Regions from separate parts of the Homo sapiens genome. Here region 2 is linked to region 1. Evidence: fine-mapped expression QTL. Tissue or cell type: whole blood. Region 1 holds a variant in brackets; the other region holds the start of a gene. All regions are shown on one strand. Distances are from middle to middle.

Region 1 (8,178 bases):
GAATGGCTTGAACCTGGGAGGTGGAGCTTGCAGTGAGCCGAGATCGTGCCACTGCACTCCAGCCTGGGTGACAGAGTGAGACTCCATCTCAAAAACAAACAAACAAACAAGAATGCTGTGCAGAGCAGGGAGTATGAGGGACAAAACCAGCACTATCTGGCCCTTCTTTCCCCAGCTCTCCCACTCATCCTTGCCACATCTCCTGCTGCTCCTGAGTCCCATCTGTCACCCCAGCCTGGACACTAAGGGGAAAGAGAACCAGGAAGAGTGAGAGCATATGAGAGCACAGTTGCACCAGGTAAAGGAGGAGAGGCCAGGTTCCCACTGCCTGCAAAAGAAGTCCTTTCTGCCTCCCTGGAACATTGTGTGGCTCCATCTGAGCCTGACCTGTCCTTCTGCTCCTGGATGGCTGGGTGCAGGGATCACATTTCCAGCAAGTAACACAAATGGCCCCAGAAACCTTAGCTGTCTTTTCTGTCTGCAATACTTCAGTGAAACAGAAAGGCACCTGGTGCTGACTCGTGAAGTCGCCGTAAACTCCGTTACTATAAAGGGAACACTACCATCATTTGACATTTTTGGAAGTGGGCAGTGTGTGTGTGAACAAGCATGTGATCCACCAGTCCTCAGGGAAGCAGAAACACCCACAGGGCAGGGGACTGCTGTCACCCTCATCTGGTTCACCTGCTCCCCCCACCTCCATGCAGGCTTCCGGAGAGCTTGCGGTAGTTTTAGAATTGAGCTTCCCGCACCTCCCTGTAGCACCCCATTTCACCCCATTCTCTCCCTAGAAGTGGGATGAGACTCCACTACTGAGTAGAGGAGACAGAGAAGCACCATGTATCTTCCTGTGCCAAGGAAGAGTCACACCACCGACCTCAAGGGCAGCTGTCTGCCCACAATGAAGTCGTGGGGTCCCCATGGCTGTGGGGGGTGGGCAACACCTCCCCCAAGCAAGGGTGAGCTAGGTGGTCATTGCCGCCCCTACTAACATAACCCAGACCCAGAGCAGCAATTTCAGATCCTAGGAAACATCTCCCGTGCAGACACACAAACACACGGAGTGAATGCGGCATCCCACAAATGGGCCCTTTATTTCTGAACTGCCACCACTGCACGGATAAGGCCACTTGGGTTGCAGGCACACTGTGGAGTGTCAGGGGACAGAGAGGAGAGGGGCTGCACACCAAGACTGCCCTGTCCTCACGGAGAGGAAAAGCGGCCGCAGAAGAGAATCCCGTTGGTCTTGCTGTGCTGGATGAAGAAAAGGAAGGGGTGGTCGGCGCAGAAGCGGGGGACGAATCTGGCACACCGCATCATCATGATGGCAGCTGTGGCGGCTGCAGCCTCCGTGCCTTCCTCATTGACCTCCACAAAAGACTTGTGCACGACCTTGGACAGAGACAGGTCTGTCTGGGACATTCCAGAGAAGTCTGCCTTGCCCAGCTCGAAGGCATCAGTCATGCCCAGGTTGCGCAGGACACTCTCCATGTCGTAGCTTTCCTCTAGTTTAAACCGCGGGAGGGACACTTCCACCTCCTCTTCATCCATCATGTCCAGCCTCGTCCATTCTACGAACTTCTCGTAAGTGAGTTCTTTCTCCACCTAGAGGGAGACAGTTGAAGACTTTAAGACCCAGGGTGCTGCTGCCCAGCAGGGCCCTGTGCTATGCTGTGGATGCCAGACACCAGTGGCAGCGTGGCTATGGTCAGCAGCGCTCCAGTGTTAAACGGCTGACCGCAAAGTAGGGACAGCAGCCACAGCAGACACCCCCGAGTGGCTCCTTGCTAGCACGCCTCGCTCACAGCTTAGCTGTTACCGTTCTCAAGTCAGTGGTCTCGTCCGGAAGCATGATGATCATATTCAGTTCCTTGCCAACATATGGAAGCACCAAGATTTGGGTAAATATTTCTCCTATATAGGTCTTCTTAAAAGTAGATTGCTTAAACATCATTTGCACAGGTTTCTCCTCATTCTACAAAGAAAACAGATAAACATCAAGTTGAAACAAGACCCCACTGACACATGGGACAAATGTGTCGGAGCTGGCCACTCTCTGCAGGGAGAAACGCAGCTCGGTTTCTCCCCAGCTTCCAGAACACCCGGCAGCGCCTGCTCTGCCATCTTCATTACCTCAACCTCCAGAAACTGGGGTGCCCAGGGCCCAAACCCAACGTGTCTTTCCTCTCATTGATCGCATTCAGTCTCATGGCTTTAAACACAATATCACACCAAATTTACCTCCCGCCTGGGCCTCTGCCCTGTCCTTGGGCCTCCTGCATTTTACTGCCCACCTGCACCTATGTTTGGACATAAAAGAAACTCCCAGCGCCACCTGTAATGCGGCACTCCGTAGATCCTCCAAGTCGGCTCTGTCTACTGCAACTCTGCCCATCTCAGCTGAGGGCAGTGCCACTGTCCAGTGGTCAAAAGCCCTGGAGTGCCCCTGACTCCTGTCTTTCTCTCACACCCTGTGTCTGACTCACTGGCAAATTATATTGGCTCTACCTCGAGAATATAACAAAATCTGACCTGTTCCTTCTGCCTCTGCTGCTACCAGCCTAGCCCTGGAATATTGTGATAATATGATTGTGATTGTTCCCAGCACAGTGGCCAGAGGGGCCCGGTAGAACCTAAGGCAGATCACATTGTTCTTTGGCTGGACACCCTTCCCTGGCTCCCCATTTACTCGGAGCAGGAGCTGAAAGTCCCTAAAAAGCCTGGAATTGTGATAAGAGCTCGTCCCCAGTTCCCTCTCCCTTTGCTTATCTGCTACAGTCACAGAGGCCTCCTCACTGCACTGCCAGCAAACCCAGTTCATCTCATCTCTACGCAGTAAGCTTGTCCTCCAGAACCTGGAGAGTGAACTTCTGCCTCTTTACGGTCTTTGTTCAAAAACCACCTTGGCAGAGAAGCTGTCCTTGATAGATCTTACCTGACCCTACACTCCCACCCCAAACACAGATTCCTATCCCCTCCCTTGGTATGTCTCTGTACCATTTACCACTGTCTAATATGCTCCTATTTTCTTATTTATGCTTGCTGTCTCTCCCCCAAGAAAACATAAGCTTCACCAGGGCAAGCATGCTTTGCTTGTTTTGTGCATGGCTGAAAAATACCTAGCACCATGCCTGATACATAGAAGACACTCAGTCAGGTTAGGCATGGTGGCTCATGCCTGTAATCCCACCATTTTGGGAGGCTGAGGCAGACGGATCACCTGAGGTCAGGAAATCGAGACCAGCCTGGCCAACATGGTGAAACCCCACCTCTACTAAAAATAGAAAAATTAGCTGGGCATGGTGGTGCGCTCCTGTAATCCCAGCTACTCGGGAGGCTGAGGTAGGAGAATCACTTGAACCCGGGAGGCAGAGGTTGCAGTGACCCAAGATTGCACCGCTGCACTCCAGCCTGGGAGACAGACCGAGACTCCATCTCAAAAAAAAAAAAAAAAAGGCACTCAGTCAATCTCTGCTGAATAAATGATAAATGCATAAACGAATTAATGAGCTGGGATGCTAAAAAGGCCAGGCAACATTTACACATCTCACCAGAAAAAACTGCACTGGTCACCAACCCCAGCCAGCCAATGAGAAAGACTGGAGGCCAGGAACCACACCCCATCCAACAATCCCCCTCAGTTCCTGACTCGGAGCTGCTCCTGTGAGTTGAGTAAATACCCTGCAATAGGCACAGTCAAAGACGCCGTATGGTCCCCAGTCTCTGGTGTAGCACATTCTTCTGTGTTAAATGGAATAAATAAAATACACTGCGGCGGCAGCTTTCTGCTTTCACGTGGTAGAGGCTCGCCTGGGCTGGCCCTTAGCCTTTGGCTAGAGCAGTCTCCTGGGCCTCGGCTGCCCCACTCATTTCCTTGGCCAGCAGTAGGCATGTTTCTTCCATAACTGACCAGACAGGAACTATTTTCCGGTTTGTGGCTACATGTACCATCTCCGTCACAACGACTCAGCTGTTGTTACAGGATGAAATAAGTAAGTAAATAAGCATGGGCCAGGCGTGGTGGCTCACGCCTGTAATCCCAGCACTGTGGGAGGCCCGGGCAGGTGGATCACCTGAGGTCAGGAGTTCGAGACCAACCTGACCAACATGGTGAAACCCCGTCTCTACTAAAAATGCAAAAATTAGCCGGGCATAGTGGCACACACCTGTAATCCCAGCTACTCAAGAGGCCACGGCAGGAGAATCACCTGAACCCGGGAGGCGGAGGCTGCAGTGTTCCGAGATGGCACCACTGCACTCCAGCCTGGGCAACAAGAGAGAAACTCTGTCTTGGAAAAAATAAAAAATAAAAAAAAAAAATAAGCATGGCTGTGTTTCAGTAAACCTTTAAAAAAAATTAGGTGGTGGGCTGGCTTTGCTGTAGGCTGAAGTTTGCTGACCCCTGCCTTCAGTAATTCCTCCCTGCACCCCTTCAGGGTCCAAAGCCTCCAATCTTGCAATATAAAAAGATCTAACCTTAGTGACTGAATGATTCACTAAATACACAATTATATAGACAAGTTCCAGTTTATATAGAAGGTAATGAAATTAAAATAAGAATCTGTATCAACTCAAAATCTGTGCCCTTGGAGGTACACCTCTGGCCTCAGGCTGGTACGCTCAATACTGCAGCCCCTTCCTTCACCCTTCTTCACTGCAGAACTCAGAAAGCATGACGGGATTCCACATCTCCCCAAACCCACAAGACCTATAGTTCTGGCCTACACCATATAGAAAGCAGCTTTCCCTTTCTGAAACGCAGAACCACTAAGGGGAAGGTTTAGGCTCCCCTCCCCTCCCTTGTTCCTCCCCCTCCCTGCCACCGG[G/A]ACTGCTGAAGCCAGCTCAGCCATCTTGTGACCATGAGGAAGAAGGCGACGTGCTGAGAATGGTGGAGCCGCCTCCCTGGGATCATCGCCCCAGTGCCAGACCAGCCCAGGTCTCACCTGCCTCCAGACCTCCTAGCAGGGGAGATGAGCTCCTAGGAGATAAACCATGGTGAACCGGGGTTTCTGTTATCTGTAGTCAAAGCCCTTGTACATCTTGTTAATCATTAAATTTTAAAGAGAGAAATTATTTTGCCAGGGGAAAATAGCACAGTTCATTTCAGAATAAAGCTTCAAAGAAAATAATTCTTTCTGAATTGCGAGGAGAACAGACAATGAAAATAAATTTCTTGAAAAACTGAAGGCTCAAGTTCAAGTTAGCCTGGAAGATCTAACTATGGTCAATGATCAAGAATACACTGTAATTAATCTATTCTGTTTACTTTGTCTATGTTCAAAAATTTCTATAGTTAAAGAAAAACAAAACAAGAGACAATAAAGAAGATTCAGTGAGAGGAAGATAAAGGGCCATCAGCAAATGACATCTTCCACGCTGGAGGTGGTTAATCTCAGTGTCTATCTACATGTTTGGTTTGGTTGTTTTAAAACAAAAATCTGTACTTATCCTTACTATCAAGAGAGGACTGAATATCACTCATCGGTTCAGCATTTACTAAGCACCAGCTACGTGTCTGGCACTTGTCAGAGAGTCCTCCCTGCTCAGCCTCAATTCAGCAGGCTGAGTTGTTCCGCTCCTGCAGTGTGGCACGGAGGCCAGCAGGAGGCGCGGTAGCGGGGCTTCCCGGGACGCCGCCAGAAAGAAAGGAGTGGGTAGGTCCTGATGGGAATGAAGCTAGAGAAAAGGAGGAAATGTCCGCTAGAAGATGGCACGCCATATCTGGAGTCTGAGCTTTAAGACCTTGATCGAGCCTGAGGGCTGCAGCTTCAGACTTGCCCTGTAGGTGGCAGGGCGGATGCCAGGCGCCCAGGGACACGAGGCCACCCAATGGATGTCAAGCAGGAGGGGCAGGGACAGAAAGGCCCCACGGCTGCAGACGCGGGAGGCCCCGAGCCGGAGACGCTCGTGTGAACACAGGCGCTGCTCCTGTCACGGCCCCTTACTCGCCTTGCTGACTTTAAACAGTCTCTCCTCGGTGTTCTCCTTGTCAAACTGTTCATCCCAGTTTCCTCTGAAATAGACAGCATTCACCAGAACCAGCCTTGTCAATGGATCCACTGAGCCCGGAGAGAGCAACTCCGCAATTTTACCTGAGCGGAAGAATTCAAGACCGCATTAGATAGGGGCGGCTGCGGATCCCCGACACATCAGGAATCGGCTGGGGCCTTCTCCTTCAGCAGTCAAGTGCACGGATAGAGAGTTCCACTGTCCCCCAAATATAAAGGGATACGTGTCCTTAAAGCAAAACAACAAAATCTTCTGGTACGAAAAACATCATCAATTGAATAAAACACACAAAGTGAACAAATATGCGTTAATTATGCAGGATGAGTTCCTAACACATGAGATAAGAAGCAATCATGGGTGCCTATGACTTAAAGACAAGAACTTAAAGGATTATCAAAAAGGTGGGCAGTCAGAAGATGTTCTTTACAAGCTTAAAGAACAGTTAGGCCAGACACAGTGGCTCACACCTATAATTCCAGCAGTTTGGGAGGCTGAGGTGTGAGGATCACTTGAGGCCAGGAGTTTGAGACCAACCTGGACAACATAGTGAGGCCTTGTCTCTTAAAAAAAAAATTTATTAAAATTAGCTGGGCATGGTGGTGCTACCTGTAGTCCCAATTACTTGGGAGACTGAAGCAGGAGGACCGCTTGAGCACAAGAATTGATGCTGTAATCCCAGCACTTTGGGAGGCCAAGGCGGGTGGATCACGAGGTCAAGAGATTGAGATCATCCTGGCCAACATGGTGAAAACCTGTCTCTACTAAAAAATACAAAAATTAGCAGGGCATGGTGGCACGTGCCTGTGATCCCAACTACTTGGGAGGTTGAGATAGGAGAATCACTTGAACCTGGGAGGCAGAGGTTGCAATGAGCCAAGATTGCACCATTGCACTCCAGCCTGGGCAATAAGAGCAAAACTCCATCTCAAAGAAAAAAAAAGAAAATTGAGGCTGCAGTGAATTGTGATTGTGTCACTGCATTCCAGCCTAGGTGACAGAGGGAGACCTTGTCTCAAAAAAAAAAAAAAAAAAAGTTTAAATTAAGAACCACAGATAGACCAGGGCGTGACCCAGTGTCCCACAGCAATGCATGGCAACTGTAGACTGTGCTACCCAAGAGGGAGGCAGCTTGAGATCCACACTGCGAATTTTTTATGTTACTTGTGAAAGGAAAAACTATATTAACATTAACACACTAACCCCCTCCTCAAAATTAAAACGTGGATTGATCCAGAAGAGGTATACCAAACACTGAAAGGCATCACGGGTACACCAAGGAAACAGGGAGAAATCAGAGAGAACAGAACACATTGAGCATTTCCAAAATGTCAAATAATGGCAACTGATTTCAGAAGCAGATTTTTTAAGTTTGCAGTTATTCAGAGAAAAAAAAATCATTCCTGTTTACAATTGACAGTCTTGTGAAGGAACTGACAATAAAATGGATTAAGAGGTTATTACAAAAGTAGAATAACAATACATTTTCACCTTCTGTCTTTTCAGCTACCCAGGTGTTTATGTGTTTTCTGGACTTCTCTACGGCGCTGATAAAGTCAAGCTCCTCCATCTCTGCTTGGTAGAATTTTTGGCAGGAATCTCTAAAAGACTAGGATAGACAGAGTGACATAACTGCCTGGCTACAAAAATGATGAACACCAACGGCCTACTTCTTCATTGCACCAAGTCAGAAAATCTATAATTTTATGATTGACATACATAATTTACAAATAAATATGAGGACTTAACCTAAACTACAACTTCCTAGCTTTAGCTATATTTAATCCTAGCTTAAAAACTAAGTCAAGGTCAGGTACTGTGGCTTACACTTGTAATCCCAGCACTTTGGGGGGCCGAGGCGGGTGGATCGTGTGAGCTCAGGAGTTCGAGACCAGCCTGGCCAACATGGCGAAAGCCCGTCTCTACTAAAAATACAAAAATTAGCCATGTATGGTGGCATGCACCTGTAATCCCAGCTACTTGGGAGGCTGAGGCAGGAGAATCACTTGAACCCAGAAGGCGGAGGTTGCAGTAAGCCGAGATCAGGCCACCACACTCCAGCCTGGGCGACAGAGCGAGATTCTGTCTCAAAAAAAAAAAAACAAAAAAAAAAAAGCAAAAAACACTAAGTTGAATCAGTCTCTGAATATCAAACGAACTTCACCAACTGCT
Region 2 (8,178 bases), 36 kb after region 1:
GTATTTATTCTAACTCAGAGAACTGGGTACATGAAAGAGTATATAGGGGGAGGAGGATCAGATTTAGGGGTCAGATAATCAGTTTGAGTCAAAAGGGGCTTAGAGTGCTGGTGAACATTTAGGTGAAGATGTCCAGAGGACAGGTAGAAATTACGACAAAGGTAAGAGCTATCGATGCTAAATGAAGCTGGGGGAGAAACTCCTTGATCCAGCAACAAACATTTTAAAAGACAGCTGGAAAAGGAGCACATGGCAAAGAGGACAGAGAAGGAGAAGACAGAAGAAACAGAGAACCAGGTCAGCATCCGCTGCTGGTGCTGAGAGGAAGAGGAGAGTCAGAATTGAAAAGGGCATTTCTCATTCCCAAGTCGTTAGTTACCAAGGGACGATAGATGGGAGGAGCAAAAACTGAGGCAGATCCAGGCCTGGAGACACATGGAGAGAGTTGTCTTAGAATACTCTTTCAAGAAACTTATCTGGGATGAATGAGAAGACGAACTGGAGCTGGAGGTGGGACTGTGTCTTTTGAGATAGGAGCCTTGGCTGTGACCCATACAATGTGTAAGGAGAGGCATCACACCTCTTCCACCCCTACAAGTTGATACTCTCATATTTAAAATCTGAGTTAAGGCCAGGTGCGGTGGCTCATGCCTGTAATCCCAGCATTTTTGGAGGCCGAGGCAGGCGGATCACTTGCAGTCAGGAGTTTGAGACCAGCCTGGTCAACATGATGAAACCCTGTCTCCACTAAAAATACAAAAAAAAGTTAGCCAGGCATGGTGGTGTGTGCCTGTAATCCCAGCTACTCAGGAGGCTGAGGCAGGAGAATTGTTTGAACCTGGGAGGTAGAGGTTGTAGTGAGCCAAGATCACACCACTGCACTCCAGCCCAGGTGACAGAGTGAGACTCCGTTTCAATAAATAATAATAATTAATTAATTAGCCAGGCGTGGTGGCAGGCACCTGTAATCCCAGCTAGTTGGGAGGCTGAGGCAGGAGAATCGCTTTAACCCGGGAAGCTGAGGTTGCAGTGAGCCAAGATTGCGCCATTGCATTCCAGCCTGGGTGTCACAGCGAGACTCCATCTCAAAAATAAATAAATTAATAAATTAAAATAAAATCTGAGTTAAATTTAAATAATTGTGTTGTTCTGGAGATTTTTTAAAAAATATCATCACTGGTCATAAGAATTTGAGGAATAGCTAAATAACAAAACAGAGGTTTCTCTCTCTGTCTCTCTTCCTTTTTCCATAACAAGAGAAGCTCATCTTCTTATCTGGTCTGGAATCACTTGGGTGACATTTCAAAATGCAAATTAAGAGCCAGGTGGGCAGGTCCCCAATGCGTTGGGATGGGCCGCAGCTGACTGGGCAGCCTCCCTTGAGCTCCCAGGACTTTGCCGAAGGGAGTGGCGTCCATTTGCATGAGGAGCTCAGGAAAACTGCTCCTCAGGTGCCGAGTTAGAGACACCTAGTGAGCTTCACCAGAGTAGTTTTGACCAGGGATACAACAAAGCTCCTAAAACTGAAAAAGCACGAAAACAAAAATGGTTGTGAACAGGGCTCAGCGATGACGAGGCTACATTCAGCCAGTGTGTGTCTGGTGCCATGGTAGACACACCCCTGGGATCCTGCCGCCCTGGCACAGGGGGTGCTCTGGGAGACAGAGGCTGGAATTGGACTGCATTGCAGCCAGGTGGCCTTGGAGACCCAGAAGGGTGCCTCCTTGGGCAAACTTAATGTTCCCCCTAAAGAGATCCCTTTGAAGATCCGCATGGCTTTCACACAAAGGGCGTGGGGTTTAGTTCCAAAACGTAGGCTTGGGTATTATAGAATAAAAGCAAAAGAGGGCACAAGATGTGCATTTTCATTATGTTTACTTAGTGAAGGGTGGGCAGACATTTTCATTATTTTTGGGTTTTTTGTTTGTTTGTTTTTGAGACAGAGTCTTGCTCTGTAGCCCAGGCTGGAGTGCAGTGGCAAGATCTTAGCTCACTGCAACCTCCGCCTCCTGGGTTCAAGTGATTCTCCTGTGTCAGCCTCCTGAGTAGCTGCGATTACAGGCACCCATCACCACGCCTGGCTAATTTTTGTATTTTTAATAGAGACGGGGTCTCACCATGTTGGCCAGGCTGGTATCAAACTCCTGATCTCAGGTGATCCACCTGCCTCAGCCTCCCAAAGTGCTGGGATTACAGGCATGAGCCACCGCGCCCGGCCCATTTTCATTATTTTTAAACAAAGGCGAGCAATTCACTTTCTGGGTGCCCACCTGAAGTAGAGAATCCCAACCCCTTACCATGAAAACAGATAATCTGTTCACTGAGCCCCAAGGACAAAGCAGCCAGGGTCGACTGAGGGGCTACTGCAGCCTTCCTCTCTGACTCCTCCCACCTAACCATTCCCTCAATACCTCAATACACACACTCCTTTCTTTCCCAAGTCTATTGCCTCTTCCAAAAGCAATGTAAGATCCGCCCCAGAACAGTGGGGAGTTCTTATCCTTTCCGTTACCTAAGCAACCTGAGGGCAAAGACCTTTAGATCACCGGCAGTGCTGTTCTTTGGGTAACTTGATCTTTGCTTATCAGCTTTAATAACTTTATTATACGAAATACCCAGCCTTGATGAAGTATCGATGACTCACTAACTGTGGTGTAACTAATTGTTTCATTCATTCTACAAACTTTTTTTTTTTTTTTTGAGACAGAGTCTCACTCTGTTGCACAGGCTGGAGTGCAGTGGCGCGATCTCAGCTTACTGCAACTTCCACCTCCTAGGTTTGAGCGATTCTCCTGCCTCAGCCTCCTGAGTAGCTGGGATTACAGGCGCGTGCCACCACACCCGGCTATTTTTTGTATTTTTAGTAGAGACGAGGTTTCACCATGTTGGTCAGGCTGGTCTCAAACTCCTGACCTCGTGATCTGCCCACCTTGGCCTCACAAAGTGCTGGGATTACCGGCATGAGCCACCGCGCCTGGCCTCATTCTACAAACTTTTATTCTGCACTCACTATAGGCTGGGAGCTACACTAGGGCCTGGGGACATGAAGACAGGCGACACGGTCCCTGGGCTCAAGATGCCAGACAGATGTGCAAACAAGTGAAATCTGATGTGATATGTGCTTTAGTGGTGCCAAGGATAAAAGGATAAGTGTTAAGAAAAAGTAGCAACAATATGTCTGACTGGGAGAATCAAGAAAGGTGTCATAGAGTCCCTAACACTTGAGCTGAGAATGAGAAAGAGCATGAGCTGGCCAGGTGACACACAGAGCATATTCCAACCTAGGAGACTGGGAAATGGGCCAAAATATATACGTTTGAGGAAACAAATAGCTTACTATATAATTAAATATGAGGCAGTTTAGACTGGGCCCTTATGGATAAGTCACACCCATAAATTTTATTTCATCTTACAGGCAGTGGAGAGCCTCTGGAGGATTCTGAGCTTCGTGGTCTCATCATCAGAGTTATGTATGGCAACCATCCCAACCTTTTTGGCACCAGGGAGGGGTTTTGTGGAAAACTATTTTTCCTTGGACAGCAGAGGATGGTTTCGGGATGATTCAAGCACATGACACTTCTTGTGCACTTTATTTTCAGTGGGAGCCCTGAGCTTGTTTTCCTGCAACTATCTGGCCCCATGTGGGGGTGATGAAGACAACGGCAGATTATCAGGCATTAGATTCTCATAAGGAGCGCACATCCTAGATCCCTTATGTGTGCAGTTCACAGTAGGGTTTGTGCTCCTATAAGAATCTAATGCTGCCTGATCTGATAGGAGGCAGAGCTCTGGTGGTAATGCAAGCAATGGGGAGCAGCTGCACATACAGATAAAGCTTCACTAGCTCACCCACTGGTGGCTCACCTCTTGCTGTGTGTCCTGGTTCCTAACAGGCTACAGACCAGTCAGGTCTGTGGCCCGGGGGTTGGGAACTCCTGGTGTATGGAAGAGACTACTCTGCAGCAATGTGGACAAATAGGATGAGGGTGAGCTGTCAGGGGAGACAGGCACACATGGCAGAGCTATTTAAAAAGGAGGATAGATGACCAGGCACAGTGGCTCATGCCAGTAATCCCAGCACTTTGGGAGGCAGAGGCAGGCGGATCACGAGGTCAGCAGTTCAAGACCAGCCTGGCCAACATGGCAAAACCTCATCTCTGCTAAAAATACAAAAATTAGCTGGGCGTGGTGACATGCGCCTGTAATCCCAGCTACTCAGGAGGCTGAGGCAGGAGAATCACTTGAACCCGGGAGGCAAAGATTGCAGTGAGCCGAGATCGTGCCATTGCACTCTAGCCTGGGCAACACAGCAAGACTCTGACTGGAAAAAAAAAAAAAAAAAAAGGAGGATAGACAGGGCTTGGGGATTGGTGGATGGGTAGATAAGGAAGGAGGAGTCTAGCATGACTCTCAGACTACTGACTTGGACCAGCAGGGGAATGGCTGTGACAATAAATAAGATTGGGAAAACAAGAAGGTGAGCAAATTTAGAGGAGAAAATGAATTTCATTTTTGGCATGGTGTGGAAGGCTCGGGAGAGAGGTCTAGGCACCAGATGTCAACGTGAGGTGAAATGGATATAGCTGAAGTCAAGGGTGTGGTGAGGTTTTGCAGGGAGAGCAGGGACCTCCAGCAAGGCCAGTGCATAAGGGAGAATAGAGAAAAAAAGAACCAGAAAAAGACAAGGAGAGGCCAGAGAGGTGTGGAAAGAACCAGGGAAGACAGTTATTCACAACAAACAAAAGAGGGCAGAGTTTTAGAGAAGGAACTGAGCAGTTTGGGGCTCCAGGTGGGGCAGGAGTGGGTGGCCACGGTTGAGGGGCAGTGGCCTTCAAATTGGTCTGGGTAGGTTCTAATGGGTCAGATTGGTCAGTCCTTTCCAGGACACTGAAGGCTGCAGAGGTGTGACTGGATGCTGGTGGAGGGATGCATGGCGGGGAAGCTGAGTCAGATCCTGAAATCCTCCAAGCATGCGCCTGAAATGACCAAGGGAAATGAAGGCGGAGGCTGCTGTCGCCTGGTGGCCTGGGAAGGGCCAAGAGCCAGGGAGCTGGAGGGAGGAGAGAACGTGCGACCTCAGCACGGAGCACTGTAGGGGAGGCGGGGCTGGAGGGAGATGGCGCCGCGCTCCCGGATGAACAGAGAAAGCGACAGGGTGAGTCGCAGGGCACAGTGTGGGATGAGTCACCGACAGCAAGGCATGGACTCCGGGAAGAAGGGGAGACGAGCCGGGAAAGACTTGCATCGGGGATGTGAGCTGAGCTGCACCCAGACAAAAGCGGCTCGGGGCTCCTGAAAGCAGCAGGCACCGCCGGTCCTGCCAAGGGGCTACTTCCTGCGCGGAGTAGGAGAGTAGGAGACCCCAGGCCAGTCCCAATCCCCGGCCCGTCCGGGATGAGGGGGGCTGCGGGAGCTGCGGGGGCCTCCTCCAGGGAGGACGGTTGCAGGGTCCCTCGGCCGCCGCCCACTCCCGGGGGCGTTCCTTCCTCCCAGCTGCGCCCGGAGCGCCTGCTGCCTGGCGAGAGCCCGCCCCTCTGCAACCAGCCCGCTGCAGCGGAGGGCGCCTGGGTGCCCTCGGCCGAGCCAGCAGCCCACGGTCGGCGCCGCACTGTCCCCTGGTGGCGGAGCGCTCCCGCGACCCGGCTCGCCACGCCTGGGAGGGGTCCAGGAGGACGCGGCTGGGACCTGGGGGCTCTCAGGGTGGGGCCTTGGGGGATGAGGCTGGGGCCCGCGGGAAACCGGGCTGGGGCGAGGAGGCTCGCAGGACTTCCTGCCACAGAATGTTTCGATGCTTTTTTTAATTCTGCAAATGTAAGCCTTTCCACTTTAAGTCCAAGCTCAGCGCAGAGGACTGTTCTATAATACATACAATTTAGTTTAAAAATGTTGCAAATGTTAACATGTGTCACAAACTCAAGCAATCCAGTATTATAGAAAGCAAAGAATGAAATGTGCTGCTTCTTTCTCCCCCAGACGCCCTTGCATACATTAAGATATGTATATATGGAAATGTTACCGGGAGTCCCGGTTATCCCAAAAAGGGTTGTTTCCTGTTGCGTGGTGAGGCCAATGCACGAAACCGAAAGGGAGTGTGTCAAGCAGTGCAGGCTGTATTCAATGGCTATGGAATTGGAAGATCTGAAATCAACTTAGCTTGTGAGAGCTGGGAAGTTTCAGAGGTAGGGTGTCTTTAATGAAGGGGCTGGGCATTAAGAGCACGGGGGGGAATATTCGTGCTTTCCTTGGGAAAGAACGGAGATTTTTCCCGGAATCAAGAAACCCCTTTTTTTCTGTCCCTTCTTGGTCTCTTCCAGTCGTTGTCATGGCGACATGTTGTTTAGCATGAGAACAGGATGATGATAAAGCCAGAGGCTCTTCAGAGGCGCCATCTTGGATTTCGCCAGCTTCAGCTGGTTTCGTCCTAAGAAGGAACTTCGAAACACAGGCATTCTTTTTCCTGAAAATAAGCAGAGTTACAGCTGAGTAGGAATTTAGCTCTGTCCCATATGCTATCGCATTGGGCAGCAAAAGCAGGGTGGGGTCCAGCGAAATCAGCAGGCACTGCAATGAGTAACATACCCAGCCACGTTTATGCAGCATTTTTACGAAAATGAAACCATACTACCTGTAAAGGAAGATATGCTAACAAACAACAAAACTGGCAGGAACCAAGATTCCTACTGACACTACCCTTAGTTTTAATTTTCCCTGACAACAAATGAGGTTAACAGAGCATAATTATCTACCGTGACCCCTTCAAAAAGACAGGCTGTATACATTTGCACTAAGAGAAGAAATCGTGTAATGTCAGCAAATTTCCCCCACTTAAAGCTTCTCTATTTAAAAAGCTTCACGCACACATGCACGCATATGTCTTCAAGATGACCACAATTTATTTTGCAGTCATTCTTTGCACCAGTTCCCAATTTTTCCCACTAGCTTGCAAGCTCCGTGACTCGAGGAGACCGGGGGATCAGAGTTTGTTTTTGCGGAGAAGTGAGTCCTTTATGCCCCAAATAGTGACTGACATAGAGAAGGTACTCAGTAAACACTTTTTAAAGGAATGCCTGCCTGACTGAAGCTTAATGATGTGAGGCTTCTAGTGGGATACCCTACCTTGTTTTAACCTGAAGTGACTCTTCCTTAGCTAAGAGAGCCAGACGGACTCCATCGTGACTCCTTCACTCGCAGCCCCTTACCCACCCCCTTCCTCAAGGACTTAACTTGTGCAAGCTGACTCCCAGCACATCAAGAATGCAATTAACTGATAAGATACTGTGGCAAGCTATATCCGCAGTTCCCAGGAATTCGCCCGGTTAATAGCACCCAGAGCCCCTGCGTTTGTGTCCGGTTGATAACGCCCAAAGCCCGGCGTCCATCACCTTAGGATAGACTTAAAGCCTCTGCACCTGGAACTGTTTACTTTCCTGTAACCGTTTATCCTTTTAACTTTTTGCCTACTTTACTTCTGTAAGATTGTTTCAACTAGACTCCCCCTCTCCCCTGTCTAAACCAAAGTATAAAAGAAAATCTAGCTCCTTCTTCGGGGCCAAGAGAATTTCGAGCGCTAGCTGTCTCTCGGCTGCCGGCTAATAAAGGACTCCTGAATTCGTCTCAGAGTGTGGCGTTTCTCTGTAACTCGCTCGGTTACAACACTAGGTTAATCTTTTTCCTTTAACTGTTTGTTTAAAATATATTATGTTTAAGACCTTCTAACTGGTCAGCCTCCAAGATAGTATTGTGCTGGGCTTGCTTTATTCTGGTTTGGTTTCCATGATCCCAGTTCATGTGTTACCTGCTTCTCTTTTGAATTCACAATGATACACAACTTTTAATTTGTTAGAACACAAACATAAGGAATTTTTTTTTCCATTTTAATGTGAGATATGACAGAGGCAAATTGTTTCTTAAAGACATAAAATAATTAAAATAATTACATAAATTGTAATAAAATAATTATTACAATGTTCTATCTTTGGCATTAAGGCATAGAACAATTTTTTAATCCTAAACTAGGCTGGGCATGGTGGCTCACTCCTGTAATCCCAGCACTTTGGGAGGCTGAGGCTGGTGGATCACTTGAGGCCAGGAGTTGGAGACCAGCCTGGCCAACATGATGAAACCCTGTCTCTACTAAAAATACAATAAAAAATTTAGCCGGGTGTGATGGCGCTCACC

The links. PIP is the estimated chance that this variant, and not a neighbour inherited with it, causes the effect.
Region 2: it holds the start of LINC01011, and the variant in region 1 is fine-mapped to the expression of LINC01011 in whole blood (TOPMed, PIP above 0.99).

What each region holds. Positions count from the first base shown.
Region 1 is chr6:2,947,095-2,955,272 of GRCh38, forward strand. SERPINB6 (serpin family B member 6) reads right to left here. Exons shown (of 7, transcript NM_004568.6): 4 at 7,498-7,615; 5 at 5,950-6,092; 6 at 1,820-1,975; 7 at 1,065-1,605. The coding sequence ends at 1,204. Among named protein-coding and RNA genes, the nearest start is that of SERPINB6, 20 kb to the right of the region's middle. The variant G/A (reference allele first, on the strand shown) is at 4,827.
Region 2 is chr6:2,983,555-2,991,732 of GRCh38, forward strand. LINC01011 (long intergenic non-protein coding RNA 1011) reads left to right here and starts at 4,413. Exons shown (of 3, transcript NR_026856.1): 1 at 4,413-4,477; 2 at 5,974-6,179; 3 at 6,315-7,617. NQO2-AS1 (NQO2 antisense RNA 1) reads right to left here. Exons shown (of 2, transcript NR_186367.1): 2 at 5,782-6,457. RefSeq lists enhancers at 4,355-5,164, 5,165-5,974, 5,975-6,784, 6,348-6,507, 6,785-7,592 and a silencer at 5,358-5,777.